Linked DNA regions of Homo sapiens. The protein of the gene in region 2 purifies or fractionates together with the protein of the main gene of each other region. This does not show direct contact. Each region holds a gene or a part of one and is shown on either strand. Other genes may lie near its edges.

The links. Proteins that work in one complex are often made in the same cells at the same time.
Region 1: the proteins of MEFV (region 2) and NLRP3 purify together in Homo sapiens (affinity purification with western blotting, with the first as the bait; one study listed by BioGRID). This does not show direct contact.

Annotation. Positions count from the first base shown.
Region 1 is NC_000001.11:247,429,673-247,433,172, reverse strand, and holds part of NLRP3 (NACHT, LRR and PYD domains-containing protein 3), read right to left. Parts: coding exon 3,418-3,500; intron 1-3,417. UniProt on the Homo sapiens protein: Sensor component of the NLRP3 inflammasome, which mediates inflammasome activation in response to defects in membrane integrity, leading to secretion of inflammatory cytokines IL1B and IL18 and pyroptosis.
Region 2 is NC_000016.10:3,246,634-3,250,133, reverse strand, and holds part of MEFV (pyrin), read left to right. Parts: intron 1-353; coding exon 354-703; intron 704-1,129; coding exon 1,130-1,225; intron 1,226-2,887; coding exon 2,888-3,118; intron 3,119-3,500. UniProt on the Homo sapiens protein: Involved in the regulation of innate immunity and the inflammatory response in response to IFNG/IFN-gamma.

The sequences.
Region 1 (3,500 bases), on a different chromosome or scaffold from region 2:
TGCACTGGCGAGATCATAGCTCACTGCCACCTCGAACTCCTGGGCTCAAGGGATCCACCTGCCTCAGCCTCCCAAGTGGCTGCAAATACAGGCATGTGCTACCATGCTTAGCCATTTTATTTTATTTATATTTTATTTTTATTATTATTATTATCTTCTAAAGACAAGGTCTCACCAGCTTGCTCAGGCTGGTTTTGAACTCCTGGGCTCAGGTGATCTGCCCACCTCAGCCTCTCAAAGTGCTGGGATTCCACATCCCGCTGCAGCTCTGATTCTTGATTAGTTTCCCCGTCACACACATGCACACAAACACACACGCACATCACTACCACCGTCACCACCACCACCAGCAACAAAAACTATACTTTATCCCTGTCATGGGGGCAAGAACAACATTCTAGCTTCTTTCCAGGGCAATAGTTCATAGGTCCTGGAGCCTGTTAGACCACCTTCCTTTCTGTCCCTATCCTTACACCAACTTCAAGCAAATGGACAAATGGATCTCTACTTCTCTGCGAAGCATCTCACTGTCCCCTACCCTTCCCTGTTTGTGTCTGCCTCTCCAGAATCATACAGGGGCAATGGCAGTGGGGAGAGAATTTGGGCATGAAGTTGGAGAAATAAGGTTAAATGTCCCAAACAACCAGTCTCCATGGCACTACGATTTGAAATTTACCAAAAGAGCAAAGATGAAGAGTGTGATCTATATACATAATGGAATACTGCTCAGCCATAGAAAAGAATGAAGTCACATCTTTGAAGCCACACAGATGGAACTGGAGGCCATTACCTTAAGTGAAACAACTCAGAAACAGAGTCAAATACCACACGTTCTCACTTACAAGTGGGAGCTAAACAAAGGGTAACATCCATAGAGCATGGAATGATAGACACTAGAGCCTCAGAAGGGTGGGAGGGTGGGAGCCAGGTGAGGGCTGGAAAATTATTTATTGGGTACAATGTTCACTATTTGGGTAAGAGTTACACTAAGGCCGGGCACGGTGGCTCACGCCTGTAATCCCAGCACTTTGGGAGGCCGAGGCGGGTGGATCACGAGGTCAGGAGTTTGAGACCAGCCTAGCCAATACGGTGAAACCTTGTCCCTACTAAAAATACAAAAATCAGCTGGGCGTGGTGGCCCATGCCTGTAATCCCAACTACTCGAAGAATTGCTTGAACCCAGGAGGTGGATGTTGCAGTGAGCCGAGATCACTCCACTGTACTCCAGCCTGGGCAACACGGCGAGAGTCCATCTCAAAAAAAAAGGGGTAGTTACAGTAAAAGCCCAGACACTACCACTGTGCAGTAACATATCCATGAAACAAAGCTGCTCTTGCGCCCCCTACATCTACAAAAATAAATACATAAAGTAAAAAATAAAGAGCAGAGCAGACAGAAAGCATTTAAGCCACCGAACAGCACAATCGAATCAGAATTTTCTAAAGGACCATCTTACTTTTGTGCAGAGAATGGTCGGGTGAGGGAAAAAGGCAGACACAGGGAGACCAAAGAGCCAACATTCATTCAGTGCGTGCTTTTGACCACTGATGGGTACTAAGATGTCTGTCCAGGCGTGGCAAAGATGACAGCAAGACAAACAAACGCAAACCCCATCCCCGGGGAGCTGATGGTCTAGGAGGTCACTGCGTGTCCAGGCAAGTGGTGACAGTTGCTGGACCTGGGCTGGTGGGGTGAGGACGAGGAAAAGTGGAAAACAGCTCGGGTAGGAGGAAAAATTGATAAGACTGGTGACAAGGTGAGTGTGTTGAGCCGGAGAGGGAGGTAGCAAAATGTCCTAGAGTGGCGGACTTTAACACTTGCTGTGCAGCTCCTCAAAAATGCAGACGCCTGCATGCGTCCACAGAGCAGGGAATGAAACAGAGCTAGTGAGGCGGCCCAGGCACCAGCGCGGTGGGGCGTGTGAATCTGATTCATGGTGTGGGAGAAAGCAAGCACATTTTTTATTATTATTATTATTATTATTATTTTGAAATGGAATCTCGCTCTGTCACCCAGGCTGGAGTGCAATGGCACGATCTCGGCTCACTGCCATCTCCGCCTCCCGGGTACACACAGTTCTCCTGCCTCAGCCTCCCGAGTAGCTGGGACTACAGGTGTGAGCAAGCACATTATTAATAAAGTCACAGGAGATTCCCTGTGACATTTCAACCCATACAAAGCATTCTGACCAGGCTGGGCAACGTGATGAGACCACATCTCTACAAAAAAAATACAAAAATTAGCCAGCATGGTGGTGCATGCCTGTAGTCCCAGCTACTCGGGGGAGCTGAGGTGGGAGGATTGCTTGAGCCTGGGAGGTCGAGGCTGCAGTAAGCTGTGATCACACACTCCAGCCTGGGTGACAGAGAGAGGTCCTGTCTCAAAGAAAAAAAAAAAAAGTATTTTCATAGTTTTTAGGTGAGGTTGCCATTGTTGTAAATGGCAAATTCTCCAACTCTCATCTATGAACATGGCCCATGAGGAAATGGAATATATCGAGCATCATGGTTGTTTCAAGAAATGACTTTTTTTTTAGTTCCTCATTCATTCTTCCCCACACAAAACTTCCCCAGCTGGCCTCCAACCCATTCTACCTTCTCACTTGTTCTGGGCTGAACTGTGCCCCCCCAAAAATTTACATGTTGAAGCCCTAATCCTCAAGACCTCATAATGTGGCTGTTTTGGGAAATGGGGTCTTTAAAGGAGTGACTAGATTAACATTAGGTCTTGTGTAGTCATGCCTGACTGTGCCTAATCCATCAGGACTGCTGTCCCTGTAAGAAGAGGAGACTAGGCCACTCTTCCCCCCAAGGCAAGATGGCATCAGTACACAGGGAGAAGGGGGCATCTACAAACCAAGGAGGGCGGCCTCAGAAGAAACCAACCCTGCTGACACCTTGATCTTAGACTTTCGGCCTCAGAACTGCAAGAAAATGAATTTTTGTTGTTGAAGCCATTCAGTCTGTGGCACTTTGTTACAGCAGAAACCACACCACCGGCCGGGTGCGGTGGCTCATGCCTGTAATCCCAGCATTTTGGGAGGCCGAGGCGGGCGGATCACCTGAGGTCAGGACTTCGAGACTAGCCTGGACAACATGATGAAACCCCATCTCTACTAAAAATACAAAAAATTAGCTGGGTATGGTGGTGGGTGCCTGTAATCCCAGCTACTCAGGAGGCTGAGGCAGGAGAATCACTTGAACCCAGGAGGCAGAGATTGCAGTGAGCCGAGGTCACGGCATTGCACTCCAGCCTGGGCAATAAGAGCAAAACTCTGCCTCAAAAAAAGAAAAAAAGAAAAAGAAAAGAAAGAAACCACACCAGCAACCTGGTCCTGAAGATCTTTCTCCAGTCTGTTTCTCTCTCTCTCTCTCATATGAACTTGCACTCACACAGATCACATGCACGGGGACTCACCACAATCTCCGAATGTTACAGCCAGGATGCTGGAGCGTTTCACACAACACTCTCATCCCTGGGTCCCCCAGAGAATTGTCACT
Region 2 (3,500 bases):
GGTTCAAGTGGCAAAGGAACACTGGTCAGAATGTCTCTTTCCTTGGCATCACCTGCTAGATCTATGTCTGTGCAGGAGGAACAGCACAAGGCCATGGGTCTTTCTTTAGGATAAATGCCCAAGAATTCCAAGGCTCAGGAATGTCTGAGGTCTGGCCCTTAGCTCTCAGGCCCAGTGGCCTGTTTGCTTCCTCACTGGATGGAAGTCGGGGGAGGACAAGCTAGGAAGTGGGCAGAGTCTAACTGAGAACTCGCACATCTCAGGCAAGGGCTGTGTCCGCTGTGCTTTGTGATACCTCTGTGTAAGCAACTTGGGTTTGCCATTCAGGGGGTTTTTCCACTGCATGTCCCCAGGAAGGCCACCAGACACGGCTGCGAGTCCCCGCTGCCACGCCCAGGAAGGAGACCCAGTTGACGGTACCTGTGTGCGTGATTCCTGCAGCTTCCCCGAGGCAGTTTCTGGGCACCCCCAGGCCTCAGGCAGCCGCTCACCTGGCTGCCCCCGGTGCCAGGACTCCCATGAAAGGAAGAGCCCGGGAAGCCTAAGCCCCCAGCCCCTGCCACAGTGTAAGCGCCACCTGAAGCAGGTCCAGCTGCTCTTCTGTGAGGATCACGATGAGCCCATCTGCCTCATCTGCAGTCTGAGTCAGGAGCACCAAGGCCACCGGGTGCGCCCCATTGAGGAGGTCGCCCTGGAACACAAGGTAGGCACTCCCTGCCTGTGGGCTCTTCTCTGCCAGGCACTTGGACACACTGGGCCTTACTTCATTTTCCCAACAACTCTGGGTTGTTGGTGCATTAACCAGCATTCTTGGGCTGGAAATGGCAAGAACACAATATAAACCAGTCCAGCAAAGAGGGGAGCTACAGGTTTATGTTGCTCAGAGATCCAGGGGGAGCTGGCTTCAGGTATGGCTGAATCCAGAGGCTCAGAGGAAGTGCCTCTCAGCTCTGCTGCCTTTGGCAATTCAGCCATTCCTCCCTCCTCTTTCCTGAGCACCCCTCCCCATGCCGCTGGCAGCAGCACCCTCAGCCTTGCTACCAGAAGGAGATGTTCCCCTCCAGAGTTGGCACCAGCTAAAGATGGCAGGAGCCAAATTCAAGCTTTTCAACAAGTGCTGTTTTTCCAGAAGAAAATTCAGAAGCAGCTGGAGCATCTGAAGAAGCTGAGAAAATCAGGGGAGGAGCAGCGATCCTATGGGGAGGAGAAGGCAGTGAGCTTTCTGGTAAGGTCAGAGGTGGCTGATGGCCCATCCGTCCCTGGGAGGAAGGTGGGAAGAGTGAGCAGGGGTCCCCGAGATTCTGCTGTGGTTCACAGGGCAGCAGGGATGGCCACCTCCTCTCAGGGGACAGAGGGTAACCAGCAGCCAAGGGTAAGCTCATCCCTGTAGAGGGAGACCACCCCCAGCAGGCAGGGGTCACCTCTGAGGATCCTGTCATGCTTTCTCATACTCACCAGAAGATGGTAGAGAGCAACCTATGCCGGTGACTACTGCAGAAAGATGGGATTGAGGAAAAGGGAGGAGAACGCCACTTTCTTTTTTTGTGACGGAGTCTCGCTCTGTCACCCAGGTTGTAGTGCAGTGGTGTGATCTTGGCTCACTGCAACCTCTGCCTCCCGGGTTCAAGCGATTCTCCTGCCTCAGCCTCCTGAGTAGCTGGGATTATAGGTGAGTGCCACCATGCCTGGCTAATTTTTGTAGTTTTAGTAGAGATGGGGTTTCACCATGTTGGTCAGGCTGTTCTCGAACTCCTGAACTCGTGATCCGCCCGCCTTGGCCTCCCAAAGTACTGGGATTACAGATGTGAGCCACTGCGCCCGGCCAAGAACACTTTTAACTTCATAATTTACTCTCTGTTTTTTTGTTTTGTTTCCAAGATGGAGTCTCGCTCTGTCACCCAGGCTGGAGTACAGTGGCACGATCTTGGCTTGCTCCAACCTCCACCTCCGAGGTTCAAGCAATTCTCCTGCCTCAGCCTCCTTAGTGGCTGGAATTACAGGCGCCTGCCACCGCGCCTGGCTAATTTTTGTATTTTTAGTAGAGACGGGATTTCACCGTGTTGGCCAGGCTGGTCTCAAACTCCTGACCTCAGGTGATCCACCTGCCTCGGCCTCCCAAAGTGCTGGGATTACAGGTGTGAGCCATCGTGCCTGGGCTGGTTTTTTTGTTTTTTAGGGTTTTTTTTTTTTTTTTTTTTTGAGATGGAATCTCACTCCGTCGTCCAGGCTGGGGTGCAGTGGTGCAATCTCGGCTCACTGCAAACCTTCGCCTCCCCAGTTGAAGCAATTCTCCTGCCTCAGCCTCCCGAGTTGCTGGGACTGTAGGCACATGCCACCACTCCTGGCTAATTTTTGTATTTTTAGTAAAGACAGAGTTTCCCCATGTTGGCCAGGCTGGTCTCGAACTCCTGATCTCAAGTGATCTGCCCAACTCAGCCTCCCAAAGTGCTGGGATTACAGACATGAGCCAATGCACCCAGCCCAAATTTCCCCATTTTATAAGACAACATTTATATTGGATTAGGGACCCACCCAATCCCAGTAGGACCACATCTTAACTAATTACATCTGCAAGAACTCTTATCTCCAAATAAGATCACATGCTGAGTACTGGGGGTTAGGGCTTCAACGTGTAAATTTTGGAAGGGACACAGTTAAACCTTAACACCAGGTTTAAGGACATTTTCCCAGAGCTAGCCCCAGCCATGCTCAGTCTTTTCTGGAAGGTTCCAGACAATATCGCCTCCTGCTCTGGAATCTAGGCCTTGAAGAGGCAGCATAAGCCCACCTCTTATCCACCTCCAGGAGGTGGGCTTCTGGGGGTTCCTGGACATCCACGTCCACCCACAGCACAGACCCCCATACCTCCCTGTCCTCTGCTCCCCAGAAACAAACTGAAGCGCTGAAGCAGCGGGTGCAGAGGAAGCTGGAGCAGGTGTACTACTTCCTGGAGCAGCAAGAGCATTTCTTTGTGGCCTCACTGGAGGACGTGGGCCAGATGGTTGGGCAGATCAGGAAGGCATATGACACCCGCGTATCCCAGGACATCGCCCTGCTCGATGCGCTGATTGGGGAACTGGAGGCCAAGGAGTGCCAGTCAGAATGGGAACTTCTGCAGGTGGGTGTGCCTGGGCCCGGCTTTCTTGGGTCCCCTGTGCCTATCAGGATGCCTCAGGCTCCCAGCTCTGCCATCAGCCGTGCTGGAACAAGTGGGTGAAGCCCCTAAGGCCTAGGATAGGACTTGGTCTTGGTGACCCACAGTGCCTCTTGTGCCCAGACCCCTTTGATGAGGTCTCTCAGGAGCCCAGGGTGGCCTGGTATCCAGGGGATCTCTGCCATTTCCCAGAAGGGATCAGCAGGGCTTGAGGGCCGTTCCATTGCAGGCCTCGCCACCTGGGATGCCTGAATTCCCGTGGTTAGAATTAGACTTGAAGAAAGGTGCTCCACTTCCACTGACACCCTAGGGCAGGGAGCCCTGGTAAGTGCAGCGGGGAGCTAAA